Linked DNA regions of Homo sapiens. The protein of the gene in region 1 purifies or fractionates together with the protein of each later gene. This does not show direct contact. Each region holds a gene or a part of one and is shown in the gene's direction. Other genes may lie near its edges. The genes, in order: KDM6B, KDM7A, STAT5B, AKAP8, GART, USP24 and SLFN11.

What was found.
Region 2: the proteins of KDM6B (region 1) and KDM7A purify together in Homo sapiens (affinity purification with mass spectrometry; 2 studies listed by BioGRID and IntAct, with this or other methods). This does not show direct contact.
Region 3: the proteins of KDM6B (region 1) and STAT5B purify together in Homo sapiens (affinity purification with mass spectrometry, with the first as the bait; one large-scale study listed by BioGRID). This does not show direct contact.
Region 4: the proteins of KDM6B (region 1) and AKAP8 purify together in Homo sapiens (affinity purification with mass spectrometry, with the first as the bait; 2 studies listed by BioGRID). This does not show direct contact.
Region 5: the proteins of KDM6B (region 1) and GART purify together in Homo sapiens (affinity purification with mass spectrometry, with the first as the bait; one large-scale study listed by BioGRID). This does not show direct contact.
Region 6: the proteins of KDM6B (region 1) and USP24 purify together in Homo sapiens (affinity purification with mass spectrometry, with the first as the bait; one large-scale study listed by BioGRID). This does not show direct contact.
Region 7: the proteins of KDM6B (region 1) and SLFN11 purify together in Homo sapiens (affinity purification with mass spectrometry, with the first as the bait; one large-scale study listed by BioGRID). This does not show direct contact.

Annotation. Positions count from the first base shown.
Region 1 is NC_000017.11:7,851,217-7,855,296, forward strand, and holds the end of KDM6B (lysine-specific demethylase 6B), read left to right. Parts: coding exon 1-10; exon of another isoform or gene 11-105; intron 106-113; coding exon 114-178; intron 179-240; exon of another isoform or gene 241-261; coding exon 262-333; exon of another isoform or gene 334-431; coding exon 432-580; intron 581-734; coding exon 735-849; intron 850-932; coding exon 933-1,120; intron 1,121-1,278; coding exon 1,279-1,420; intron 1,421-1,783; coding exon 1,784-1,910; intron 1,911-1,993; coding exon 1,994-2,164; coding exon of another isoform or gene 2,165-2,281; coding exon 2,282-2,305; 3' UTR 2,306-3,580; downstream 3,581-4,080. Other genes in the region: TMEM88 (transmembrane protein 88), read left to right, coding at 3,859-4,068. UniProt on the Homo sapiens protein: Histone demethylase that specifically demethylates 'Lys-27' of histone H3, thereby playing a central role in histone code. Demethylates trimethylated and dimethylated H3 'Lys-27'.
Region 2 is NC_000007.14:140,083,874-140,087,547, reverse strand, and holds the end of KDM7A (lysine-specific demethylase 7A), read left to right. Parts: 3' UTR 1-2,802; downstream 2,803-3,674. UniProt on the Homo sapiens protein: Histone demethylase required for brain development.
Region 3 is NC_000017.11:42,266,019-42,270,323, reverse strand, and holds part of STAT5B (signal transducer and activator of transcription 5B), read left to right. Parts: exon of another isoform or gene 1-2,038; intron 2,039-4,305. UniProt on the Homo sapiens protein: Carries out a dual function: signal transduction and activation of transcription. Mediates cellular responses to the cytokine KITLG/SCF and other growth factors. Binds to the GAS element and activates PRL-induced transcription.
Region 4 is NC_000019.10:15,352,459-15,356,166, reverse strand, and holds the end of AKAP8 (A-kinase anchor protein 8), read left to right. Parts: intron 1-796; coding exon 797-1,252; 3' UTR 1,253-2,782; downstream 2,783-3,708. UniProt on the Homo sapiens protein: Anchoring protein that mediates the subcellular compartmentation of cAMP-dependent protein kinase (PKA type II).
Region 5 is NC_000021.9:33,521,239-33,525,543, reverse strand, and holds part of GART (trifunctional purine biosynthetic protein adenosine-3), read left to right. Parts: intron 1-543; coding exon 544-775; coding exon of another isoform or gene 776-779; exon of another isoform or gene 780-1,535; intron 1,536-3,261; coding exon 3,262-3,356; intron 3,357-4,305. UniProt on the Homo sapiens protein: Trifunctional enzyme that catalyzes three distinct reactions as part of the 'de novo' inosine monophosphate biosynthetic pathway.
Region 6 is NC_000001.11:55,212,565-55,216,518, reverse strand, and holds the start of USP24 (ubiquitin carboxyl-terminal hydrolase 24), read left to right. Parts: upstream 1-1,154; 5' UTR 1,155-1,405; coding exon 1,406-1,729; intron 1,730-3,954. UniProt on the Homo sapiens protein: Ubiquitin-specific protease that regulates cell survival in various contexts through modulating the protein stability of some of its substrates including DDB2, MCL1 or TP53.
Region 7 is NC_000017.11:35,359,317-35,363,621, reverse strand, and holds part of SLFN11 (schlafen family member 11), read left to right. Parts: coding exon 1-883; intron 884-3,250; coding exon 3,251-3,379; intron 3,380-4,305. UniProt on the Homo sapiens protein: Inhibitor of DNA replication that promotes cell death in response to DNA damage. Acts as a guardian of the genome by killing cells with defective replication.

The DNA of each region.
Region 1 (4,080 bases):
GTCTCTGCAGGTGAGATGAGAACGTGGCCAGAGGCAGGTCCTGGGACGGGGCTGCGGTGGGAGGGCTCTCGAAAGGTCTCTGACCCAGGCCTGCCTACCCTCTGGCTGAACAGGAGGAGAAGGAGAGTGAGGATGAGGAGTCAGAGGAGCCAGACAGCACCACTGGAACCCCTCCTAGGTACTGTGCAGGTGTGCCCCTTCTGTTCCTGCTTCCTTCCCCTCCCTCTGCTCTCCACCAACCTGTGCTCTTCGCCCCAGCAGCAGCGCACCAGACCCGAAGAACCATCACATCATCAAGTTTGGCACCAACATCGACTTGTCTGATGCTAAGCGGTCAGTGGGGCTGAGGCCAGGGAAGTTGGGGCAGGAGTGCTGCTAGGACCTCGTGGCGGGGGCGGGGTGTAGCCTCTCGTCGCACTTCCGCACCGCAGGTGGAAGCCCCAGCTGCAGGAGCTGCTGAAGCTGCCCGCCTTCATGCGGGTAACATCCACGGGCAACATGCTGAGCCACGTGGGCCACACCATCCTGGGCATGAACACGGTGCAGCTGTACATGAAGGTGCCCGGCAGCCGAACGCCAGGTGCGCTCCACGCCTGTGCGCGCTGATGCTGGAAGCGCGAGAGGAGGGGCTGGCGGCGGCGCTCAGCCGTCAGCCAATGAGGGCAGAGGGCGGGGCTATCGGGGATCGCAGTTCCGACCTGGCCAGCCATGCCGTTCTCTGTCGACCCCTGCAGGCCACCAGGAGAATAACAACTTCTGCTCCGTCAACATCAACATTGGCCCAGGCGACTGCGAGTGGTTCGCGGTGCACGAGCACTACTGGGAGACCATCAGCGCTTTCTGTGATCGGTGCGTGCCGTCCTGCGCAAGTCAGACTGCCGCGTCCCCGCCCTCGGTCCCCAGTTCCCACCTGACCTGTGGCCACCCCGCAGGCACGGCGTGGACTACTTGACGGGTTCCTGGTGGCCAATCCTGGATGATCTCTATGCATCCAATATTCCTGTGTACCGCTTCGTGCAGCGACCCGGAGACCTCGTGTGGATTAATGCGGGGACTGTGCACTGGGTGCAGGCCACCGGCTGGTGCAACAACATTGCCTGGAACGTGGGGCCCCTCACCGGTGAGAGGGTGGGGCAGGTGTTGGCGTGGTGTGGCGCCTCAGCGGCAAGGGCCTGGGAGGCTGGGGCTTGGAGAGCCGCCAGCAGTGAGGGAAGGGGCTTGGGCCTAGGTGTCTGGGGGCTGTTTGAGAGTCCTGTTGTGATCGCCTTTGGCCCGCAGCCTATCAGTACCAGCTGGCCCTGGAACGATACGAGTGGAATGAGGTGAAGAACGTCAAATCCATCGTGCCCATGATTCACGTGTCATGGAACGTGGCTCGCACGGTCAAAATCAGCGACCCCGACTTGTTCAAGATGATCAAGTGAGGACCCTATTTGGGTGGGAGCCCACCTCCACTGACTGGTCCCTTTTCTTGTTCTTCCTGTCTGACTCCACCCCATTTTTACCTCTCTCCATCCTTGTCTGCCTGTGCCCCGAGTGTTACTGTGTTGGGGAGGCTAACTAGGTCCTTGCTGTCATGACCTTTTCTAGTGGTCCAAATAGACAAAAGCCACAGGAAACTTCGCCTATAACAGATGCCCAGGACAGAGGATGTGACCTAGACATGAAGCGGGGAGGCCCCTAGGGGAGGGCCCTGGGGCTGCCCACCCCTCTGCCCTTGCTCCAGCCCTGCCTCAGGCCTCCTCCTTGCCGGTGGTCTCAACACAACCCCACTGCTCCCCAGGTTCTGCCTGCTGCAGTCCATGAAGCACTGCCAGGTGCAACGCGAGAGCCTGGTGCGGGCAGGGAAGAAAATCGCTTACCAGGGCCGTGTCAAGGACGAGCCAGCCTACTACTGCAACGAGTGCGATGTGAGTGGGCCGGCTCTGCTGCTCTCCCTGAGTGTCCACAGTGGCCCTCCCTCCCCCTGACTGCACTGTCCTCCCTGCCCCAGGTGGAGGTGTTTAACATCCTGTTCGTGACAAGTGAGAATGGCAGCCGCAACACGTACCTGGTACACTGCGAGGGCTGTGCCCGGCGCCGCAGCGCAGGCCTGCAGGGCGTGGTGGTGCTGGAGCAGTACCGCACTGAGGAGCTGGCTCAGGCCTACGACGCCTTCACGCTGGTGAGGGCCCGGCGGGCGCGCGGGCAGCGGAGGAGGGCACTGGGGCAGGCTGCAGGGACGGGCTTCGGGAGCCCGGCCGCGCCTTTCCCTGAGCCCCCGCCGGCTTTCTCCCCCCAGGCCCCAGCCAGCACGTCGCGATGAGGCCGGACGCCCCGCCCGCCTGCCTGCCCGCGCAAGGCGCCGCGGGGCCACCAGCACATGCCTGGGCTGGACCTAGGTCCCGCCTGTGGCCGAGAAGGGGGTCGGGCCCAGCCCTTCCACCCCATTGGCAGCTCCCCTCACTTAATTTATTAAGAAAAACTTTTTTTTTTTTTTTAGCAAATATGAGGAAAAAAGGAAAAAAAATGGGAGACGGGGGAGGGGGCTGGCAGCCCCTCGCCCACCAGCGCCTCCCCTCACCGACTTTGGCCTTTTTAGCAACAGACACAAGGACCAGGCTCCGGCGGCGGCGGGGGTCACATACGGGTTCCCTCACCCTGCCAGCCGCCCGCCCGCCCGGCGCAGATGCACGCGGCTCGTGTATGTACATAGACGTTACGGCAGCCGAGGTTTTTAATGAGATTCTTTCTATGGGCTTTACCCCTCCCCCGGAACCTCCTTTTTTACTTCCAATGCTAGCTGTGACCCCTGTACATGTCTCTTTATTCACTTGGTTATGATTTGTATTTTTTGTTCTTTTCTTGTTTTTTTGTTTTTAATTTATAACAGTCCCACTCACCTCTATTTATTCATTTTTGGGAAAACCCGACCTCCCACACCCCCAAGCCATCCTGCCCGCCCCTCCAGGGACCGCCCGTCGCCGGGCTCTCCCCGCGCCCCAGTGTGTGTCCGGGCCCGGCCCGACCGTCTCCACCCGTCCGCCCGCGGCTCCAGCCGGGTTCTCATGGTGCTCAAACCCGCTCCCCTCCCCTACGTCCTGCACTTTCTCGGACCAGTCCCCCCACTCCCGACCCGACCCCAGCCCCACCTGAGGGTGAGCAACTCCTGTACTGTAGGGGAAGAAGTGGGAACTGAAATGGTATTTTGTAAAAAAAATAAATAAAATAAAAAAATTAAAGGTTTTAAAGAAAGAACTATGAGGAAAAGGAACCCCGTCCTTCCCAGCCCCGGCCAACTTTAAAAAACACAGACCTTCACCCCCACCCCCTTTTCTTTTTAAGTGTGAAACAACCCAGGGCCAGGGCCTCACTGGGGCAGGGACACCCCGGGGTGAGTTTCTCTGGGGCTTTATTTTCGTTTTGTTGGTTGTTTTTTCTCCACGCTGGGGCTGCGGAGGGGTGGGGGGTTTACAGTCCCGCACCCTCGCACTGCACTGTCTCTCTGCCCCAGGGGCAGAGGGGTCTTCCCAACCCTACCCCTATTTTCGGTGATTTTTGTGTGAGAATATTAATATTAAAAATAAACGGAGAAAAAAAATCCTGTTTCGCTAACGGCTGGTGGTAGCAGGTTGAGTACCGGGAGGGCTGCAAGACCGTGATTGATGGGGAGGACTGCGCAGACCCTGGCGAGGGTGAGCCCCTCCCCGGAGGCGCCTGTGGAATGTCCAGGGCTCTGGTCCGCTCCTCGGGATGGGGGGTGCCTAATCCTAGAGCCGCATTCCAGGATAAGGGGGGTGGGGAGAGGCTGGGCCGGGGGAGGGGCAGGAAAGAGGGCTATAAGGGCAGCGGCCCAGGCGGGCGGGATCCAGGCGGGCCATGGCGGATGTCCCCGGGGCACAGCGAGCGGTTCCTGGTGACGGCCCAGAGCCCCGGGACCCCCTGGACTGTTGGGCCTGCGCTGTTCTTGTAACAGCCCAGAATCTGCTGGTGGCTGCCTTCAATCTTCTCCTGCTGGTGCTGGTGCTAGGGACCATCTTGCTACCCGCTGTCACCATGCTGGGCTTCGGCTTCCTCTGCCACTCTCAGGTGAGCGTGCGC
Region 2 (3,674 bases), on another chromosome or scaffold:
ATTAAGTTAAAACTGGCAATTAATGCACCTTTATATATATTTTTAAATGAAAACTAATACTATTCATGATGTTTATTTTATATCAAATATATGCCCAGGGCATGCTACTTTAAAAATCCGAGGAATCTCCAACAAGGTGCTGGATTAAAATCAGATTTCGTGCTTGAAGTGGAAGAAAAATGAAGTTGTTTATGGATAAGAGAGTGAGAATGTGTATCCTCAAGTACGTTAAGATGATTTAACTGAAAGATGGCTTTAGGTTTTTCTTGAAGAATTAGGAAAGTACCATCCCCACAGATTCAGCATACTCTTCAGGTACTAGATAAAGGTGAAGGAAGTCATGGAATTAAAATGACTTAGCAACTCCCCAGGGAACTTGTGGGGAGAATGAGGTGGTTAGAAAGGTGAGAATGCACAAAGACAGCTCTGGGTTGGGTACCAACAGTTTGCTTGGTAGAAAGAAACCAGTGTAGGAAAGGAGACGCCACCAGACATCTTCAACAGACAAGATTCTTTCTGCCTTTTTCAAAAGATGCTCTCTGCAGCAGTAAGACTATAGATAGAGTTGATTGGAATATCATGTGACCCAGTATGCTACTGCTAGGCATAATTATCAAAAATTCATTTTTCTCATTAAATATTGTTAATTGCTCGCCACATAAAGAGAAGCTAGAGCTCACCAGTCTTGGTGGTGTCCTAGACCTTCCTCTAAAGCAGTCTTGGGAAGCTGGATCATCAGATCTTTAGCCTAGACAGAGTGTCGCTGGTAAATAAAGGAGACACAGGTAACCCAGAGTGGACAGTGATTTGCGTGGGGAGACACAGTGGATCTGGGGCCTCTGATACTTTGCTTCCTAAAACAGCCCCCAGTTTTCGGCTTGCCCTATGAGATGATGTTCATGTGCTTCCTTGAAACCAGGTGGAAAGAAAGGGGAAGAATTAATTTTCTCATTCTGTTGCTGTTGAACGTAATGTAATCTTAATACTGTAGCCTTCCTAGAAGCCCTTCCCTCTTTTTCATGCTGTAAAGTCAAATATTTGATATCCTTAACATAAATTTTAAAAATTAAGGTCATTAGGAAGCAAATGTCTATTTCCAAAGCAATGAGCTTGTTGTGACTGTGATTTTATTCTTCTATAGTATTTTTTTCCTCATTTTAACTGAGAGGAGAAAATAATACTCTTTTGCAATATCCTTAGGTTCTCCCCTTCCCCCTGGTGCCCCTTCTAGTGTCTTAAGACTTTGTCTTAACAAGTATAACATTACATTTTGTTGTTAAAACCTTTCGAAACTGTATTCAGTGATTCTTCCAAGTTTATCTGCTCTGCACTATTTCACTAATAAACCCTGGCTACCACGTAGCCCTTGATCTCCAAGTAGTTTACCTATGCAAGACCTGTGACACTCTGAATTCACTTCTCTTTCTTTCAGAAAGTAGTCATAAATGGAGCTTAATTATAAAGGTAAAACTTGTCTCCAACCAGTTTCATTTTGGCCATTTCTTTTTCAAAATGTCAGCTGTTTTCCTCCAAGATTTTTCACCAAAACAATGATCATAAGTGCTGGAATATATAATACTTTGCAGGCATAAAATAACCCAGACATACTCTCATATTTCTTTGGTGTATTTTGGTTGGTAAAACTTACCAGCATTAAATGTAAAATATAATGAGGAGTTAATTCCTTACCTAGAACTATTTCTTCCTTTTAAGATTCATAAGTAACCTTTTATTTTTACAGAGCTACGTATAACTTCCACATTACAGTCAGGGACCTGAGGTGTAACTTACTAAGTGAACCCCAAGGTTATTTTATCTTGCAAAAGAAACCTAAACCAAACTAAGGGCCTTACAGTTTATGGTTAGACTGAATCAAAAGCTATAACCTCAATTTTTCCAAAAACAGCTTCTGACTGCAAAAGCAAGTCATACAGTTGTTAGGTATGAAATAGCACTGATCAGGAAATGCATCTTCGCAGATGGTATTTCCTTCAGAAAAGACTTTTCTACTTTTAATATAAATTAAGCCATAACAGTTTCATGCTGTGGAAAGAGGGTGAAAAGGTTCATTTTAAGAGATTATATAATATGAACTTTCACATTTACTGTGAAATGTCTAACTTTGCCAGTGCTTCAGCAAGTTTTTTTGGGGGGTGATGGGGAGGGGTAGTATTGGTTTTAGAGGTTTCAAATCTGTGAACTTTGGAGAGGGGACAGTTGTTGGCTCTGGTATTTACTAGTTTTGTAGTAACGTTTTGCTAGCCTGACTGACTTTTCTTACTGGTTTTTATGCCCACGGTCCGAGGGGACTGTTCTTCTTGTTGGGGGTGTCTGCGGAATAGCGTCTCGTCTTGTTTGTATAGGCAGTCAATGTGTGTGACATGTGTGTCCTTTCAGTCCGGAAGCCCACTGTGTGACAATGGCGTGGGGTGTGGCTGGGAGGTGGGGTGCTGAAGCTTGAAGAGCATTTCTTTGCTGATTCATAACAGTATTTCCCATCTTTTGCCTGCAGGCAGGGAAAGTGTACAGTATTTATTTTGTTTCTGTTTTACTTTAAATTTGTAAGTCTTTAAGTAGCTTACATTGATTATTATAGGGGAGGACAAGTGACTTGTTTAAAGTTGTATTTAGTATTCTTTCCAATTTCTGTATTTTAAAATATTGAAATTAAAATTGTATTACTTCTGTTTTGATTTTTTTAGCACTTAGTGTATTTTTTGCTCATTTTGTTTGAAAGTATAAATGTTGAAAATTGTATAAAATGCGTCCTTGAAAGAAAAAGAATCTGAATTCTATATCCAATTCTGACTTTGTTCCCTTTTTCTGCTGATTGAATCATGGGAAATTATTTAAAAGTATGAAAAACTGGGTTCAGCGTCTGCTCCTTACTACTTCTGAAGACTTCAATGTGAAAAGTAATTGTCTTATTTTATTAGCAGTATTGCTGGGGATGAGTGATTGCTCAAAGAGAGGGAAGAATACAAAAGTGTAATTGGCAACATGAGGCTGAAACGTAGAAACGGATGTGGGTACTTGGCTAATGAACATTTCAGCACACTCACAGCCCCTGCCCAGGCATCCCACAAATATTTCCTAACACCTGCAGTACAGTAGGCACTGTTTTAGCACTAGTGCTGCAGGAGTGAGCAAAACCAAGTCCCAGGCCTCAAGGAGCTTGTGTGAGACACAAAAGGCAAGTGAGAGCCAGGGGTGTGGTGGCCTGGCTGGCTGGTGAAGGTGAGAGTGTTAAGTGCACACTCCGTGAGGAAGATGAGCTCAGTTTTGGACTCAGGGTCTGAGAGACAGGGATGATACGGACCAGGAAAAAGATCTGTCCTTAGAGGAGATGAGAGAGGAACTCTGGACCAGGAAGGAAGGAGCCCTGCAGGCATCACTTCCAGGGCAGAAGAGAAGCCTAGGAAGGAGACAAGTGGGCAGGAAGTCTGTTCCCGAGGAGAAACTGAGCTCAGAGTCCCAGAAACCAAGTGACCAGAAGGACCAAAGACCATACCCTCCCTCCCCCTAATATCTGCAAAAGAACAGGGACGCCAAAGCATGCACACTTAAACACACCTTGAGAGCTGCTTCCGCCCCTAGAACGGAATCCACAAAAGCAGTTTGCATCTCCTGTGTCTGCTTTCATGAAATTGGTTGAAATCTAAATCTGAACAAAT
Region 3 (4,305 bases), about 34 Mb from region 1:
CGGGGATTTCTGTCCTATTCTTGTTGCATTAAAGCTTTTTAGAGCATTAGTCATGATTTCTGAGACAGATTTAAGAATTTTACTTATTTGGGCTAATTTATTATTATTATTTCTTGAGACAGAGCCTCGCTCTGTCACCCAGGCTGGAATGCAGTGGCGCGATCTTGGCTCACTGCAACCTCCGTCTCCTGGGTTCAAGAGATTCTCCTGCCCAGCCTCCGGAGTAGCTAGGACTACAGGCATGTGCCACCATGCCCAGCTAATTTTTGTATTTTTAGTAGAGACGGGGTTTTGACATGTTGGCCAGGCTGGTCTCGAACTCCTGACCTCAGGTGATCCTCCTGCCTTGGCCTTCCGAAGTGCTGGGATTACAGGCATAAGCCACCATGCCCAGCCTATTTGGGCGAATTTTTAAGGCAACTGAACTATTGTATGTCTAGAGCTCTGCAAAGGCCATTAGAAAATAGTCTCAGATTTTTTTTTTTTTTTCATTTATGATGCTTACTTTCTCTCAGCACTTTTCCTTGGGAGTGGATTGTGAAGTTAAGTCTTGGAAACAGAATTCACAACCCTAAAGCGTAGTGCTTTAACTTTGGGAGATCAAGTCACAGACAAGAAGAACTTCAATTCCCTGTGCAGAGTATAAACTTGTTCAAATAAACAGAGGATGTTAGCTTCCAGGATTGTCAACTGTCACCTTTGACCAGGGTTGAATTTTCTTTGAATGTTGACAGAAGTTACAATGTCAGTGGAAAAAGCTTAATGTGAGGTATCTATAACTCAGAATTTCCTTATGTTTGTGTCAGTGAGATCCTACAATTAAAGCTGCTTCTTTTTTTCTATGTCTGATGAGTTTTAAAAGCCTTCACTGGGGTTTTCCAGCCTTTAGGTGAGAGTAAGTTAAAAAGTTTGTGAGAAACTATTTTTTGTTGTCTAAAATTCAGAGCCTAGGTCGGGCCCAGTGGCTCACGCCTGTAATCCTAACAATTTGGGAGGCCGAGGCAAGCGGATCACGTGAGGTCAGGAGTTGGAGACCAGCCTGGCCAACATGGTGAAACCCTGTCTCTACTAAAAATACAAAAATTAGCCAGGTGTGGTGGTGCACGCCTGTAATCCCAGCTACTCAGGAGGCTGAGGCAGAAGAATCACTTGAACCCAGGAGGCAGAGGTTACAGTGAGCCGAGATCGCACTACTGTGCTCCAGCCTGGGAGACGGAGCGAGACTCCATCTCAAAAAAATAAATAAATTAAATAAATTCAGAGCCTATAGCTGGTGGCAAGTCACTGTTTTTGAAGGAGTGGGATTTTAAAAAATCTAACCTGGGCTAAATGTTAAGTTACATTCATACATGTCATTGTAGCCTATATAAAAAGAAACTTGAACACTTGATCTCTTAAAGTACTAAAAATTGGAATTCATCAGCTTTGTAATATAGCATTCATTCTACAGTATATTTAAATAGGTAAAATGTTCTGTTAGAAATAATGCTAATTCTGTTTTTTTGTTTAATGTTTCTAAAAATCTTTTGGTCATCTTTTAGGTTTAGGAAAAGTAGCAAATTAGAGATCTACAGAAATCTACAGCTCTTTAAAAATGAAACAGTTCACCCTGTGAATTTGTTTGCAGGATTGGTGATCTGTTTCTGATGCCAGGAAGGTGGGACTCCTATCTCATTTCTGATAGAAAGTGAGGGAAAGCTATGTATAGTGAGAACTGGATACTAGATTCTTATTCCGAAGGCATGGAAGGTTTAATATGTAAGGATACAATGTAAATAGTCCCTCTTTTTGTATTTTTCTTTGGTTATTGTTACGTAACTATAGTCGTTTGTCACTTAATGATACATGGTGACAAAGTTCTAAGAAATGCATTAGGCGATTTTGTCATTGTGGTACCATCATAGAGGGTACTTACACAAACGTAGATGGTGAGCCCTACTGCACACCTAGGCTGTATGATAAAGCCTATTGCTCCTAGACTACAAACCTGTGGAACATGTATACTGTATTGAGTACTGTAGACAATTGTAACACAAGGGTAAGTATTTGTGTATCTAAACATATCTAAATATAGAAAAGTTACAGTAAAAACATGGCATAAAGGATAAAAAATGGTACATCTATATAGGGTACTTAACAGGAATGGAGCTTGCAGGACTGGAAGTTGCTCTGGGCAACTCAGTGGGTGAATGGTGAGTGAATGTGAAGGCCTAGGACATTACTGTACATTACTGTAGATTTTAAAAATACTGTCTGGTTAGGCTACATTAAATGTATTTTGAAAATTGTTTCTTTCTTCAATAATAACCTTAGCCTACTGTAATACTTTTACTTTGTAAACTTTTTACTTTTTTTTTTTTTTTTTGAGATGGAGTCTTGCTCTTGTGGCCCAGGCTGGAGTGCAGTGGCGTGATCTCGGATCACTGCAACCTCTACCTCCCGGTTCAAGCAATTCTCCTTCCTCAGCCTCCCGAATAGCTGGGATTACAGGCGTGTGCCACCACGCCTGGCTAATTTTTGTATTTTTAGTAGAGACGGGGTTTCACCATGTTGGCCAGGCTGGTCTCAAACTTCTGACCTCAGGTGATCCACCCACTTTGACCTCCCAAAGTGCTCGGATTATAGGTGTGAGCCGCCGTGCCCGGCCAACTGTTTACTTTTTTACACTTTTAAACTCTTTTGTAGTAACACTTAGCTTAACACATAAACATGTACAGCTGTGCAACAATATTTTCTTTATGTTTTTATTCTTTTACTTTTTCTCTTTTTAAATAATTTTTAATTTTTCAAAACTTTAAAAACTTTTTAATTTTTCAAAACTTTAAAAACTTTTTCTTAAAAGTGAAGGCATAAACACACACATTAGTCTAGGCCTACACAGGGTCAGGGTCATCAGTATCACTGTCTTGCACCTCCACATCTTGTTCCACTGAAAGGTCTTCAGGGGCAGTAACACATATGGAGCTGTCATCTCTTGTGATAACAATGCCTCCTGAAGGACCTGCCTGAGGCTGTTTTACAGTTAACTTTTTTTTTTAAGTAGAAGGAGTACACTCTAAAATAACGATAAAAAGTATGGTAAATACATAAACCAGTAACATAGGCATTTATTATCATTATCAAGTATGTACTGCACGCAATTGTATGTGCTAGACTTTCACATGACTGGCAGTGCAGTGGGTTTGTTTACACCAGCATTGCCACAAACATGTGAGTCATGCATTGCATTACAACATTATGATGGCTACAGCGTCACTAGAGGATAGGAATTTTTCAGCTACGTTTTATTATCTTATGGGACCACAGTGATATATGTGGTCTGTCATTGACTGAAACGTCATTATGTGGTGCCTGACTACATATATGGAAACTCTGAGTGTAGTCATGTTTTACAAATGAGTTTATCTTGCAGTGAGTTTAAATATCAAGTAAAAATACTAATTTCATTGTAATGTATGAAGAGATTGGCCTTTCTCCTCATGTTGAAGGTATCAAAACAAAATAGAAAATATTTGGCTTCCTGAGTGGCATGGCTACAATTCACATGCTGAGTTGGTGATGAGGCAAGATCCCTTGACTTTGCAATACCAGAAAAATGCACATAGTTAAAAAAAAATAGAGACAGGGGTCTTGCTATGTCTCCAGGTGATCCCTCCCACCTCCACCTCCACACCTCCCACCTCAACCTTCCACAGTATTGGGATTACAGGAATGAGTCACTGCACCGGGCCAAAAAGCATATAATTTTAAGGGAATGATTTTTTTTTTTTTTTTTTTATTTTTTGAGACAGTGTCTTGCTCTGTTGCCCAGGATGAGTGAAGTGTGCCAGGAGTGGGTCCTTAAGTAAGAAAACGTATTACTTTAGACACACATTTAAAATTTTGTCCAAAAATGTGATATTCTCAAAATTTATGGTTTTGAATTTTATTTATTATTTTAATTTATTATTATTATTTTTTAAAGAGTGGGGTCTCACTATGTTGCCCGGGCTGGTCTCAAAGTCCTGAGCTCAAGTGATCCTCCCACCTCAGCCTCCAGAGTAGATGGGACTGCAGGTGTGAGCCCCTGAGCCTGGCTAGTTTTGAATTTTTATTACCCAAATGTGAAGAGGTCTAGTTTGCACAGAACTTAACATTACATTCCAGTTTTATTGGTAAATTTGAACAGGATATAAGTGGCTTTAATAACTAATAAAAGAAGATACATCTTATAGATACACATATGTCTTTTTATATGTATACATAAATATTTAAAACTTCTTTATGCCAAAAAATGCCAGAAACCAAAGCTAAGTGACAAAATAA
Region 4 (3,708 bases), on another chromosome or scaffold:
GGCCTCCCAAAGTGCTGGGATTACAGGTGTGAGCCATCACGCCCGGCCTCATGCCCTTTTTTAAAAAACATCAAGTTAAGGCTGGGCTTGTGAACTTTTCCTCGCTGGTACATGCTTGATTAAAAATTGCAGGCCAGGCACGGTGGCTCGTGCCTGTAATCCCAGCATTTTGGGAGGCCAAGGCAGGCGGATCACCTGAGGTCTGGAGTTCCAGACCAGTCTGCCCAACATGGTGAAACCCCGTCTCCACTAAAAATACAAAATTAGCCGGGCGTGGTGGCTCCTGCCTGTAATCCCAGCTACTCAGGAGGCTGAGGCAGGAGAATCACTTGAAACCAGGAGGCAGAGGTTGTGGTGAGCTGAGATCGCGCCATTGCACTCCATCCTGGGCAACAAAGCAAAACTCCGTCTCAAAAAAAAAAAAATTGCAGAATGGGCCGGGCATGGTGGTTCACACCTGTAATCGCAGCGCTTTGGGAGGCTGAGGTGGGTGGAAACCCCATCTCTACTAAAAACACAGGAGGCGGAGGTTGCAGTGAGCCGAGATCGCACCACTGCAGTCCAGCCTGGGCAACAGCGAGACTCCATCTCAAAAAAAAAAAAAATTGCAGAATATCTCCCCGAGGTGTTTTCTGAATCTGTAGGCTCTGAGAACATGTAGGATTCACTCCTGTGGCATAATTTACAGAAGTGTTTCCCTTGTGGACTGCTGGTTCTGAAAAGCTGACATCCCCGCAATCATGGGCCTCCTGAGCTCTGCTTACACCACGCTGACCGGTGTTTCCTCTTTGGCCAGGGTGAGGACCCTTTCACCAGTGAAACTGTTGATCCAGAAATGGAAGGAGATGACAATTTAGGAGGTGAGGATAAGAAAGAGACACCTGAGGAGGTGGCCGCGGACGTCTTAGCAGAGGTGATTACAGCAGCAGTGAGGGCCGTAGATGGGGAAGGAGCGCCCGCTCCAGAGAGCAGCGGGGAGCCGGCTGAGGACGAAGGCCCCACGGACACAGCGGAGGCCGGTAGTGATCCTCAAGCCGAACAGCTGCTGGAAGAGCAGGTGCCCTGTGGAACGGCACATGAGAAGGGCGTCCCCAAGGCCAGAAGTGAGGCTGCAGAGGCTGGAAATGGCGCCGAGACAATGGCAGCAGAGGCAGAAAGTGCCCAAACCAGAGTTGCTCCTGCCCCAGCTGCCGCGGATGCTGAAGTGGAACAAACTGATGCAGAGTCTAAAGACGCTGTTCCCACAGAATGATGCTCATTTCCCTGTTCCAGGGAAGGCGTTGGGATGATGGATGCGTTGGTCTTTCTCCCTTGGTTTGTAAGCAGTACAAGGGCGTGTGCTCCCAGAATATGCTGTAATCTAATTTTGGTGAAGAGACCCAGCGTTTCCTCCTGAGCAGTGCCTCTCACGGCTTGTCTCATGCAGTCGTGTGGCTTCTTGCCCAGGTTTCAAAGCTGAAGTACATTGTCCTTAGCGGCTGTAACATGTCTCTTGACAGTAGTGCACTTGGAATAATAAAGGTTGGGTGATTATATCTTGATGATACATTACTTGTTCAATACAGCCACTGATGGAATGCTTCCTTTTTTATTTTTTTCCTTAATTTTTTTTTTTATTTGGTTGGGAACAGCTGAATACTAGGAATATATCTTGCTCTATAGAGGATTTTTTTTTGTATGTTTCAAGCTTCAGCCTTTAACCTATACCTTTGTAGTGCACCATATGGTGTGTGACTTTCACAGGACTTCGCAGCACCTGGTTCACATGTGGCACTGACCGCGTCACATCCACGCACTCCCAAAGGCCAGAAGTATCTGACCGACCTACGCCACTGGAAACACACCCACCGCAACCTCAAGAACCAGACTGTGCAGAGGGCATTGCGTCCCAATCTTTAGTCCTTGCTGAATCAGTTCTCTAATATTTTACCTCATTTGTGTTCCACCTCTAGATTACTTCAGGTTTTTTTCCTTTAAAATTAGTTACTACCACTCAAATGTATTTACAAAGAGAATTTGGCCAGGCACGGTGATGCATACCTATAATCCCAGCACTTCGGGAGGCCGTGGTGAGAGGATAGCTTAAGCCCAGGAGTTCAAGACCAACCTGGACAACATAGCAAGACCCCATCTCTTAAAAAAAAAGGAAAGAAAACTTGATGTGATTGCCATAGGTGGAATAATCCAACATAAATTGCCATAGATAGAAGGTATCTGTAATATATATATATATATATAAAATGAAATATATGTTTCATTTTAGAGAAATAACTATTACTTTAGATCTTTCCAAATCTGAGAAAGGGAGGCTAGCATGTGTTCAAGGTTAGCACGCAACAGAATTTCCTAAAATCAGAAGAATTGGAAGATCCTCCCCTTTTGAAATGGCCCTGCTGTGTCAGTTTCCCTGTGGCCTTTTGAACTGTACATCTCACATGTTGGGAAACGCTGGCCACTGGGAAATCATTAGAAAGGAGGCTGTAGAATATTTGCCGAGCCTCTACTGTATACCAGGGGCTAACTCACCAAGCACATTCTAGGAATTGGGCCCTGCTCATGAGGAGCCTTAGTGGAGATTCCAGGTGAATATTTATGAAAAAGTCAACATTAGAACTGAAAATGGAAATAAACTGCTTGAAAAGACGATGGTGCCTCTGGGTCATTTCTGCTCAGCATCCGTTTGTGTTGTGTAGATGCGTCTTAATCGCAGGGTGAGCATGCCTTTTAAGCTTGTTCTCTTAAGGCAAAAATGTCGGTAGCATTAAACAGTAGTGCAGAAAAACATCACTAGTGGAACTGCTTTATTTCCTTAATTTTCTTTTTTTTTTCTTTTTTTTTTTTTTTTTGAGACAGTCTTACTCTGTTGCCCAGGCTGGAGTGCAGTGGCGTGATCTTGGCTTACTGCAACCTCTGCCTCCCAGGATTACAGGCATGAGCTACTGCACCTGGCTCTCCCCTACCCCACACCTTTTTTTTCTTCTTATAAAAATCCAAGACCCGGCCAGGCATGGTGGCTCACACCTGTATTCCTGGCACTTTAGGAGACCAACGCAGGTGGATCAGTAGAGGTCGGGAGTTCAAGACCAGCCTGGCCAACATGGCAAAACCCTGTCTATACCAAAAATACAAAAATTAGCTGGGTGTGGTGGCACACACCTGTAATCCCAGCTGCTGGGGAAGCTGAGGCAGAAGAATCGCTTGAACCAGGGAGGCAGAGGCTGCAGTGAGTCGAGGTTGCGCTACTGCACTCCAGCCTGGGCAACAGAGCAAGAATTTGTCTCAAAAAAATAAAATATCAGGCCAGGTGTGGTGGCTCATGCCTGTAATCCCAGGACTTTGGGAGGCCAAGGCGGGCAGATCACAAGGTCAGGAGATCGAGAGCATCTTGGCCAACGTGGTGAAACCCCATCTCTACTAAAAATACACAATTAGCCAGGCGTGGTGGCAGGTGCCTGTAGTCCCAGCTACTCTGGAGGCTGAGGCAGGAAAATCACTTGAACTCTGGAGGCAGAGGTTGCAGTGAGCTGATACTGCATCACTGCACTCCAGCCTGAGCGACGAGCAAAATTTCGTTTCAAAATATGTATATGTCAATCCAAGACCTGTCATTAAATTGGTCTGAATGTCAGTGAGGCTCTTCCACCTTCCACCTCTTGGTGAAACTACATAATTCTGTTGTTGTTGTTGTTGGTTTTACAGGCAGGATCT
Region 5 (4,305 bases), on another chromosome or scaffold:
CAAGAGAATTGCTTGAACCCAGGAGGCAGAGGTTGCAGTGAGCGGAGATCACACCACTACTAGCTTGGCAACAGAGTGAGACTCCGTCTCAAAAAATAAAAGAAGACCTGTCTGATAGGGAAGGTTCTTTTAAGTGAGAGAAAGATCTTTAATTTTTATGTATTTATTTATTTGGAGACAGGGTCTCTGTTGCTGGGTTTGGAGCAGTGGTGCGATCACACCTCACTGCAGCCTCAAACTCCCAAATTCAAGTGATCCTCCCACCTCAGCTGGTGTGTGCCGCCACACTTGGCTATTATTATTTATTTATTTATTTATTTATGTAGAGGCGAGGTCTTGCTCTGTTGCCCAGGCTGGTCTCGAACTCATGGACTCAAGCAGTCCTTGCCTCAGCCTCCCAAAGTGCTGGAATTATAAGCATGAGCCACCGCACCTAGCCAAGTTAAAAAAAAAAAAAAAGAAACTTGTGGAAATCGTAAATCACTTCACGGTGTGAAATACTGTTGCTATTTGAAATCATATGTCAAATATGCTCTCTTCTAGGGTTTCCTGAGGCTCAAGCTCTAGGACTGGAGGTGTTCCATGCAGGCACTGCCCTCAAAAATGGCAAAGTAGTAACTCATGGGGGTAGAGTTCTTGCAGTCACAGCCATCCGGGAAAATCTCATATCAGCCCTTGAGGAAGCCAAGAAAGGACTAGCTGCTATAAAGTTTGAGGGAGCAATTTATAGGAAAGACGTCGGCTTTCGTGCCATAGCTTTCCTCCAGCAGCCCAGGTAAAACTCTAAGCAAGTTAGCTGTAGTGCCATTTCAGAAACTGGCCTAAATGGCTATGTAGAACATTTCATTAACCCTATAAGTCATTCAGTATTCTTTTCTCTCTGTGGGAGTGATACAGTCTTGGTTTGTATTTTGTTTGAATCAAAACTGGTTATAGCAATACTCAAATGGAAAAAACTTCATGATAGCGTAAGTTTGGAAAGTTTAGCAAAATCACAGTGGTACTGATTTTTATTTGTTTTCTATTTTTTTTATTTTATATTTTTAATTTTTTTAACAGGGTCTTCCTCTCTCGCCCAAGTTCTCATGCCTCAGCCTCCCAAATAGCTGGGACTACAGGCACAGGCCACCACACCTGGCTAATTTTTTTGTATTTTTTGTGGAGATGGGGTTTCACCATGTTGCCAAGGCCAGTCTGAAATCCTGGGCTCAAGTGATCCTCCTGCTTTGGCCTCCCAAAATGCTGGGATTATAGGCATGAGCCGCTGCACTTGGCCTGATACTGATTTTTATTCCTTGCGTTATCACATAGTGTTGTATTTGAAACATAGTTCATGGTTTTATCAAAGAACTGAAGATGAGAATACTGGTCATCTAACTTTGTAATTTGATTTGATTATACTGTAAAGTTTGACAGTCTCATTTTATCACTGCGTTTGTATCTATTACTAAAATGTATTTTTTGACCTCTTACTGATTCATTGTTGGTATGTACAAACTGTTGACTTGTAAAATCAATAAAGTCTTAGTTGGAAATGTGGGTGTTTTGATTTCTTTTTTTTTTTTTTTTTTTTTTTGAGACAGAATTTTGCTCTTGTCGCCCAGGCTGGAGTGCAGTGGCATGATCTCGCCTCACTGCAACCTCCACCTCCCGGGTTCAAGTGATTCCCCTTCCTCAGCCTCCTGAGTAGCTGGGATTACAGGTGCCTGCCACCGTGCCCAGCTAATTTTTGTGTTTTTGGTAGACATGGGGTTTCACCATGTTGGCCGGGCTGGTCTCGAACTCCTGACCTCAGGTGATCTGCCTGCCTCAGCCTCACCAAGTACTGGGATTACAGGCGTGAGCCACCGTGCCCGGCCTGATTTCTTAAAAATATATCACATTTGCTATTGTTCGTGAAGTTCATTTACGGATAATGAATAAATTTTAAGACAAAATTTTTTTACCAACGTAATTCAAGCTATACTGTTACCAAGAGGCAGGTTTTTTTAAAGTTTAAACACAGATTTTCCAAGAATCAAGAACATCAAAATACCAGGCTAAAAATTTATTTTTCATTTAAAAATGACTAGATTCCATTGAAATGACCTATTTCAAGGGACTGCAATCTCAATTCTAGTCTGAATTATTTAAGTTATAAAGATGAAAAAATGGAAATGCCACAGTGTTAGTTGCTACTGGAGAAAAGGTTTTTTAACATCAGTCTTTGTTTTCTATCTGAGAGTGACCCAGAGCTGCTGGCTTTATTTGAGTTAACTGCCAATGCACTCAACTGTATTCTGGCAGCTTTTTTGTTTTTTGTTTTTGTATGCTTTTTTTAAAGACACTTCTATAAAAACACATATTTCTTCATGTATCACTGCATCCCAGCAGGCCAGAGTTCTCATTTTTGCAAGTCAAGACTACAAAATCTGCAGTGTCATTCAAAAATTTGATCTCTAAATGTACTGCTCCGACTTGTGGGTCCTATACAGAAGGAAATGATGCACTGAGTATCTTTACCTGGTTTTGCTTTTGTCATAGTGTTTACTGTCCTCAGCTATTAGGAAACAGATACAGTTATATATTACTGAAATTAAGAACTCAGTTTAATTATTTAGGGATACTTGTGTACGGTTTTTACAAATCTAATTTTCACTTTTTTGACTTGATTAGGCATTCCTCTCTTGTTCATACCAAAATTGAACTGAGAAAAGTTGCAGCAAAATGTCAGTATATCTACTTTTAAACAGATGGTTGCCAGGGTCTGGGGTAGTGGGGAATGGGGAGTTATTTAACTGGGACAGACGTTCAGTTTTACAAGATAAAGGATTATGGAGATGGATGATGGTGCCGGGTGCACAGCATTATAATTGTATTCAATACTATTGAACTGTTCACTTAAAAATGGTTAAGATGCTGAATTTTATGTTGTGTATATTCTACCTTAATAAAAAATCATTTAAAAGAATCAGTATATTTAGCAGCCTGTGAGAAGTACTTGTAGAAGAAATAGGTGATTGAGTTAGAATAGCGGTTCTCAGGGATGATGTAATCAAGTCAACTGGGGAGATGGTTCAAACTCATTTCAATTCCCAGAGCCTGCCCTAGACCAGTTAAATCAGAATCTGTATAGATGTGGCCCAGGCACTGACTTTAAAAAAATTTAAGCACTTTAGGGTATGTGAAAATCACTTGGGATATCTTCTGCTTTAAATAATATTTTAAGATTAAAATAATTTTCCCTGACGTTTAGGTGATGACTTGTTTTTAATTCTTTAGGAGTTTGACTTACAAGGAATCTGGAGTAGATATCGCAGCTGGAAATATGCTGGTCAAGAAAATTCAGCCTTTAGCAAAAGCCACTTCCAGATCAGGTCAGTGATCCTATACTTTGCTAATTCATTAACTTTGATATACATTGTGAATGGATTTGGGTTTTATATTTAACAGGAATATTTTCCAAAGCAATGCTTGGTTACTGTAAGTTTTGCCCTGCTTAAGCCAAACCCAGTCTTCTGCTTTCTTTTCTTTAATATTAAAGTATTTCTCATCTGTCATGTTAAACTCAAAAGGATATGTATGCTCCTTTACTTTTTTTTTTTTTTTTTTTGAGACAAGAGTCTTGCCCAGGCTGGAGTGCAATGGCACCATCTCGGCTCACTGCAACCTCTGCATCCTGATTTCAAGCGATTCTCCTGCCTCAGTCTCCCAAGTAATTGGGATTATAGGCACCCACCATCATGCCTGGCTAATTTTTGTATTTTTGTAGAGACATGATTTCACCATGTTGGCCAAGCTGGTCTTGAACTCCTGACCTCAGGCAATCTGCCCACCTCAGCCTCCCAAAGTGCTGGGATTATAGGCATGAGCCACCATGTCTGGCTGGTCCTTTAGTATTTAATTACTTCCTTTTTTTTTTTTTTTTTTTTTGAGACAAAGTCTGGCTCTGTCGCCCAGGCTGGAGTGCAGTGGTGCCATTTCGGCTAGCTGCAAGCTCTGCCTCCTGCATTCACGCCATTCTCCTGCCTCAGCCTCCCGAGTAGCTGGGACTACAGGTGCCCGCCACCACGCCCAGCTAATTTTTTTGTATTTTTAGTAGAGACGGGGTTTCACTGTGTTAACCAGGATGGTCTCGATCTCCTGACCTTGTGATCCACCCGCCTCGGCCTCCCAAAGTGCTGGGATTACAGGGGTGAGCCACCACGCCCAGCCTTAATTACTTTCTTAATCAATTCTTTGAGCACATGGTGCAATCTCTCATACTCAGGAAGGGCATCTCTTGTTTCAGCCATTCTTATGAACAAGTGGTATGTATATACATGT
Region 6 (3,954 bases), on another chromosome or scaffold:
AAGACAATTTTTCTCCTTCCAATGTAGCCCAGGGAAGCCAAAAGATTGGACACCCTTGGCTTAGATGGTGGAGTCAAGGGAACTAAAGATATGACCCCAGTGTGCCAATGCCAAAGGTGAGAAGAGAAAGCAAAGAAAGCAGGCCTTTAAAGAGGTAGAGGAATCCTCAAAGGTGGAAAGAAACAGGGATAGGATGCTGCCCAAGAGGCAGGGACAAAGAATCGGAGCCAAAGACTGCGGTAAAAATGTGGGAAGGTGATGTCCACGATGTTCGAACGAGTCCGTGGCCGAAGGAAGTAAGAGTCTGGGTTTCTGGAGGTTTTCATACAGAGAACTGGGATTTAGATTTCGGGCTGGAAAAATATATTTTGGACTCTCAGGGGCTTTCAGGGTAAGAGTTCGGTAGAGTTCAGTCAGCTTGGCGGAGACAGGTAGTCAGTTAATGTTGGAAGGAAAATTCGGACAGCTGGGAATTAATTTCAACGGGTTTAGGGTGATTTCGGCAAGGGCTGGCGGGGCTAGGGTCGAGTGTGAATTTCGTCTTGGGTGGTCCACGCGTCTGGTTTGGGCAGGAATTTCTGTGGGCAGCGAGGCGTATTCAGGCAGCGTTGCGGGTGAATCTGCGTGGGATGAGGGTGGATTTCCTTCAGGACTGCGGTGCATTTCAGGCCGGGGTGGAGGTGCCTCACAGCCGCGGCGCAGGGAATTCCCTCTAGGATGGGGGAGCGGGTCGGGCGGCGCCGGCCAGGGAGGGGAAGTCCAACGGGGGTTCGGAGAGGCTCGGGGGACTCGGACGGAGAGAAGCCGGGTCGCGGCTGCGGAGGCTCGGCCGGCCAAGGGATTTCCGCGACGTTCAGCGCTGCGAGCTGCGCGGCGCTGCGGCCCCTCCCGTCCCGGGGGAACCTGTTGCCGGCGAAACAGGCGGGCGGTGGCGACGATGGAGAAGCCTTCCTCGCCTCTGCCTGGCTGCACGGCAGCCCTTTCACCTTAGGCACGCTCCGCGGCGCGGCCCCTCCCTCCGCTCCTTCGTTTAAAACAAACAGAATACGCCGCCGCCAACCCTAGCCTGCCAACGGCGAGCACGGTCGCCTCCCGTGCCGCTTCCGGGAGCCGAGGCGCGGCCCCGCCGCCCGGGGAGGAGGAGGCGGAGGGGGAGGAGGCCAACATGGCGGCGCGCAGGGCTGGGCCGGGCCGCAGCCGCGCCTGAGCGCCTCACCGCACTAGCTCGGCTCGCAGGACCCAAGCCCGCACCCAGCCTGGCCCGGCTGCTGCGGAGCACCCGGGGCAGGAACGCAGGGGCCAACCTGGGCGCGGAGGCGGCGCGGAGGGTGCGCCGCGCGGCCCGCCAGGCCCGGGACCCGTAGCTTCGCCGTGCGCTGGCCGGGGCGGCCAGGAGGCCCAAGCCATGGAATCGGAGGAGGAGCAGCACATGACCACGCTGCTGTGCATGGGCTTCTCAGACCCCGCCACCATCCGCAAGGCCCTGCGCCTGGCCAAGAACGACATTAACGAGGCCGTGGCACTGCTCACCAACGAGCGGCCGGGCCTCGACTACGGCGGCTACGAGCCCATGGACAGCGGCGGTGGCCCCAGCCCCGGGCCCGGCGGGGGCCCGCGGGGCGACGGCGGAGGTGACGGCGGCGGCGGCGGCCCCTCCCGCGGCGGGAGCACCGGAGGCGGGGGCGGCTTCGACCCCCCGCCCGCCTACCACGAGGTGGTGGACGCGGAGGTGAGGAGGGGCAACCCCAGACCTCTGTGGGAAGCCACTGGGCTGGAGTTCCTGGGAGGGGACACACCCCGCTGGGCTTGGTGTGGGGAGAGAGGGCATTCGACTGGGGCTTTAGTGGGGGCGGGGCGGAGAGAGAGAGAGAAGCCCCAGGCTCCAGTTGGGAACCGAAGTCACTTGATTGGGGGTAAGTGGGGAGAGGGACCCATAGGAGAGGCGTGTGAAAGGGAATTAGGGATGCGCAGCGGAGCTGTGGGTTGGGGTGAGGAGGGGTCCCTTAGGCTTCCGGCTATGCACGCCGACGATGGGGAGGAGGCTCCAGGGCTATCATCCGAGATGGGAGGACAGACACTTGAGCATATAGTGGGAAGGATGCGTGCAGTAGGGGGTCGGAAATGGGGTACTAGTGCACTAGGCTAGGTCGGAGATTTTGTGGCACGAGGTTTCAGTGAAGGATTGGCGGAGGCACCAGGCTCAGAGTCAGAAAAAGCGGTGTGGGCCGGCCAGAGTAGTGGTCTTTGACAGGATCACAGGAAAACTGTTGGGGTTAGGAGTGAGGTTGGGGTTTTAGCCAAGGGTCGGAAAGGGGGGGCATTGAGTAGGATTTAAAATGAAGAGGGAAGGGGCCGCGGCCAGGAATGAGGACTTGAATAAAATCAGGTATGAGAGCAGTGGGGATTGCACTGAGAGGGCAGAGGTGGGAGGCCTGGGCAGGGGTGGGAGCTGAGGAGGGTCTAGGCAGGGATGGGGACTGGAATTGGAAGATAGAGCTGGCACCAGGTCTGGGTAAAGAGGGAGTACTGGTCATCGATAAGGTCAGAAATGAGAGAAAATTAGACCGGGGAAAGAGATGGTAGTCATACTGAGGGTGCTATGCAGAGGGGCGCGGAACAGGGTGGGAGCGCAGTGGGGGTGGAGGAGGAGTCTTGAGGCTAATGGCTTTGATCAGAGACCTCAAGTCTAGGTGGAGAAGACTATGCCTGTTTAGTTTGGGGTGTGAGCAAGGAACGTGGGGGAAGAAAACGGACTCTTCTATAATAAAGAAAAAAGATCGACCAGAAGCAGCAGTGCTTTTGAATAATTACTTTGCAGAAACATAGTAGCTCATGGCAGGAATTTTGGTCAGATTCGTTGGGTAGTTCATTTCAGGGGCCAGTAGAGCAGCTTGGCCTGACCACAGAAAAGCACAGATCTCAAATTATTGGGATTGCGTTATTAGGTAGAGATACGAATTTGGTTCGTTCTTAATGAAGAATTAAGCTTAGTGAAGCTAAGCCTTTTGAAACACTTTTTCCTGAGCAGTGTTATATCCTTTTAATTGTATGCTTTTGCAACAGTTCCTCGGGCTGAAGTAGCTTGAACAAGAAGGTGGCACTTAAAAAGAACAGGTTTCTGCACAAGATTTCTTTGGCTTCCACACTTAGACACAGTTGCTAGATTGCCCTCTGTAACCCACTAACTTAGCTGTATCGTTGACTAGTATATGGAAATAAAGATTGTTACTATTCCTAGTTTGGGAATTTTTTTAAATTCCCATATAATTGAGTAACCATACTTAAGTCATTTTAAGAAATCAGCTTCTCATTGGCAGTTCCTATCACTCCTCCCTCGTTCCTTCTAGTTTTTGACCCAGTTTTGAAATCAAGAAGAAAGCCGTTGCTTTTTCAGAAGGTGTTTGTATAACTCTGCAAAGCTCAGTGTATCCTCATTATGTGAGAAATGTGATTCTTTTTTTCTTTTGTCATACCTTTTAATTTCCTGTGATTGGAAAATCAATTTAAATTACAATGCTTGGTGCATTCATGTTAACATTAGCGCTAACCTTAGCTTACTGCCAGTACATGTAAGTACAAAGAATTGGGAGTGGCTTCTTACGTGAATGGCAGGCTAAGGAGTTTGGTTTGCGGTAAATTAAAATCCATAAAATCTCCATCTTTTCGAAGCAGTGCATCAAGTCCTCATTTCTCCTAGACCTGTGGATTTGGCCTGGGGGAGGGAAGCTGCACCGTTTACTTTTAAGAGTTCAAGAGGAGCTGGTGACTGAGGCTGCTTTACCCACGAAGCGTATTGGCAGAGGTTGGCAGGCTGAGACTTTCCTGACACACAGGAGCCTTTTGGAAACATTTAACGCAGAATGTGCCTCTGTGGTTTAATAATCTTAATGCATGCCACCTATGGAACTTCTTGGTCATCCTTGGTGTACACAGTGGGAAACTGAGGCTCTTGAT
Region 7 (4,305 bases), about 28 Mb from region 1:
ATGGCCAAGAAGGTTGAGCATCCCGTGGAGATGGGACTGGATTTAGAACAGTCTTTGAGAGAGCTTATTCAGTCTTCAGATCTGCAGGCTTTCTTTGAGACCAAGCAACAAGGAAGGTGTTTTTACATTTTTGTTAAATCTTGGAGCAGTGGCCCTTTCCCTGAAGATCGCTCTGTCAAGCCCCGCCTTTGCAGCCTCAGTTCTTCATTATACCGTAGATCTGAGACCTCTGTGCGTTCCATGGACTCAAGAGAGGCATTCTGTTTCCTGAAGACCAAAAGGAAGCCAAAAATCTTGGAAGAAGGACCTTTTCACAAAATTCACAAGGGTGTATACCAAGAGCTCCCTAACTCGGATCCTGCTGACCCAAACTCGGATCCTGCTGACCTAATTTTCCAAAAAGACTATCTTGAATATGGTGAAATCCTGCCTTTTCCTGAGTCTCAGTTAGTAGAGTTTAAACAGTTCTCTACAAAACACTTCCAAGAATATGTAAAAAGGACAATTCCAGAATACGTCCCTGCATTTGCAAACACTGGAGGAGGCTATCTTTTTATTGGAGTGGATGATAAGAGTAGGGAAGTCCTGGGATGTGCAAAAGAAAATGTTGACCCTGACTCTTTGAGAAGGAAAATAGAACAAGCCATATACAAACTACCTTGTGTTCATTTTTGCCAACCCCAACGCCCGATAACCTTCACACTCAAAATTGTGAATGTGTTAAAAAGGGGAGAGCTCTATGGCTATGCTTGCATGATCAGAGTAAATCCCTTCTGCTGTGCAGTGTTCTCAGAAGCTCCCAATTCATGGATAGTGGAGGACAAGTACGTCTGCAGCCTGACAACCGAGAAATGGGTAGGCATGATGACAGACACAGATCCAGGTAAGAGGGAGAAAGCTCCTCCCTCCCTGTCCTTTCTACATCCTTGGGACCTCCCATATTAAATTTTCCTTTGCTGCCTATGACTTTGAACATCTTACATCCACTGAACACTTTATTTTGAATCCCCAAGTATTCTACTTTTCATACATGAGAAAATTTTGTTGGGTGATTAGAAACCTAACTCACATGTCTATAAATGGCCAATTTTCTACATTAGTAACTGAACAGAAAATTATTTGAGAATGGCCACCCTTGCAATGGTGTACTGGAATGGCTCTTACTGGCTTTAGAATCAATTATTAAATTTTCAGGAATTTTTGAGCTAGTTGTTAAACATAGTTATTACTAAAAATTAGATTGTATATACTTGCACCTAAATAAATCGTATCAGAAACAAATGTAATAAATTCAAACTCACCACTTCCTAATTATTTGCTACATTTCACTATTATCTTTGCTTGAGAGATTATTTACATCTATTGTATCTGTGTGGTGGGAATACTATAAAATGGAGTGCTACTGTGCATGGCTTTCCAACTCTGTATTTAGTGATAATCCATTAGGAGCTTGAAATTGTCCATGGCAGGAAGATTTATAAAACAGAAACTGGCAGTTGGCTATGAACGAGGGATCTCTTCTCAACTAGATCTGTTTATTAAACCATCACCAGCATAGATAGTACTGCTTTCTGGGGTTGCTTTCTTGGGCTGGGCTTGGTGGCTCATGCCTCTAATCCCAGCATTTTGGGAGGCTGAGGTGGGTGGATCACCTGAGCAGGAGTTCAAGACCAATATGGTGAAACCCCGTCTCTACTAAAAATAGAAAAATTAGTCAGACGTGGTGGTGCGTGCCTGTGGTCTCAGCTACTTGGGAGGCTGAAGCAGAAGAATTGCTTGAACCTGGGAGGAGGAGGTTGCAGTGAGCCGAGATTGCACCACTGCACTCCAGTCTGGGTGACAGAGCGAGACTCTGTCTCAAAAAAAAAAGCCCTTTGCATTGAAGTTTGCTATCACCTTATAATAGTACCCTGCCTAAATTAAGATGTAGTTTATCTCTTGATCCTTGAGGACATTGTTGATTTTGTAGCTCAGGAAAATTTGAAAGTAGCTCAGGGCCAAGCATGGTGGCTGACACCTATAATTCCAGCACTTTCGGAGGCTGTGGTGGGAGGATCACTTGAGCCCTGGAGTTTGAGGCTGCAGTGAGCCATTATTACAGCAATGCACCCCAGCATGGGTGAGAGTGAGACCCTGTCTCAAAAACAAAAGAACAGAAAGTATTTCAGGGTGATGAGGGTCACGGGGGTAGGGGTGTATTCAAGGTTTGTCCTCAGTACCGTTTCATATTGTCCTGTGTCTCTGTTTATCCTGTTGATATTTTGCCTTTTCTTCCACTCATCACCATGTACCCATTATGCTCTATGCCAGCAGGTATAATCTGCTCTACCCCTCTGCTCCTAACAGTTTGAAATATTTCTTGCCTTGCATCACTACTGCTTCCCAAACATGTTTCTATATTTACCCCATCATGCTATAATTTGGCAGGCTAGTGGGCTATCTCAGTGTCTCTAGAACAACTGAGAACACCCTAAGCCTGGAGAAACACAGAGAGAACATAAAAATTGGGACACAATCTTCTGAGTAAAGTGGATGTGTACTTGGAAAGGAGATATTATAAAGCTGACTCCAATCTCCAAAGCACATGAAAAAGTTAATGCACTCTATAATGTCCTTTGATTTCACACAATTTCTCATTTTAACTTCAGGAATAAGCATAGGTGTCAGAATGTCACCCAGGCTGGAGTGCAGTGGCGTGATCATAGTCCACTACAGCCTTGAACTCCTGGGCTCAAGTGATCCTCTCACTTCAGTCTCTTGAGTAGCTGAGGCTACAGGCACAAGCTACTGTGCCCAAGCCCTAAGCTATTTTTTAAGTGTGAGTAATGGTAATTACAAATCAGTGATGAGATGATATTGAACAGAGTTGAGAGTTGGGTTCAGGAGAGGTGGTGGCAGTTGGAGAGGGGATGTAAAACAAGATACATGCACAGACAGCAGTACTAAAAGAATGAGCTAGGTAACGTAACAGGTGTGCAAACAAAATGCTAACCAGATACAGAGAATGAAGAATTATACTGAATGGAGAAATACAGTTAAACTTCCAAATAATGGCTTTTCAGGGTGGGTTTTGGCAACCTTGATATGCAATAAAGGCACTTATCTAGAGTAAGTGAGTGAGAGGAGAGTTATTTTGATATTATCTCTCAAGTCAAACTATTTAGAAAGTCACACATTCCACCTACTGATAGAGCCTCTTTCAGTATGAAGAGATTAACACGTCAGAATAACATGAATTTTCTTTCTTAAGATCTTCTACAGTTGTCTGAAGATTTTGAATGTCAGCTGAGTCTATCTAGTGGGCCTCCCCTTAGCAGACCAGTGTACTCCAAGAAAGGCCTGGAACATAAAAAGGAACTCCAGCAACTTTTATTTTCAGGTAATTATGGTTTGTCTTCTCAACACCAGCCAGTTTCTATATTAGGATAAAGGGAGATTAAACTATAATATTTGTTTTGTAAAATCCTGAAAGTGCTCTGCAAACCCATTTGTAAGACGTGATGATGTTACAATCCTATTGGTGATAAGTGGTTTAGAAATGAACCCTTACTGACCCCACTGGCTAAGGCAGGACCACACATAGAATCCAGGAACATTATTTCCCTTAAAGACTATTTGTTCTTGTAGTTCCCAAATCTGGCTGATCATCAGTGTTTCTGGTCATTTTTAAAAGGACACATATCTGAGTCCCTACTCCACTCATAACAAATTGGAATATGTGGGGAGAGTGGCTTGCAATATGTACTTTTCTCAAACTACCCTCATGATTTTATGTTCATCTAGATTGGAAACCTTTTATCTAGTCAAACTAGTCATATGCTGCACCAGAGAGCAGCCAAAAAACTGCCTGCCCTTGCCAGATTTTCCACGGGAGTGGTGGTTGTAAATAAGAGAAAACAATATAAATCTAGGTCAAGATGGAAAACAAAACATTTAAAATGGAGATGGATTATGCATTTCTTCCCATGTTTTGGGTTTAGGACAATCACGTAGCAGCACAAACACAATAATTCAGGACCAAGGTCAACGCCTTTTCTCTACTCTTATCCCTTGTTCCCATGATAGGCTTTGCTTAGGAATCCATTGCTGTCTTTGTAGAATCCCAGAGAGGGAAAACCACTTGCTTAAATCTGTGCAGTAAGTCAGTGGCTTATCTGGCACTATAATTGATACATAAATGTCCTATATATGTGTAAATATCTGTCAAGGATCATTAAATTAATAGATAATGACTGCCCCCATTAGAATTTCATTTTTTCCTTTATCCAAGGTCCTTGCATTCATTTACATATCAAATTTATATTT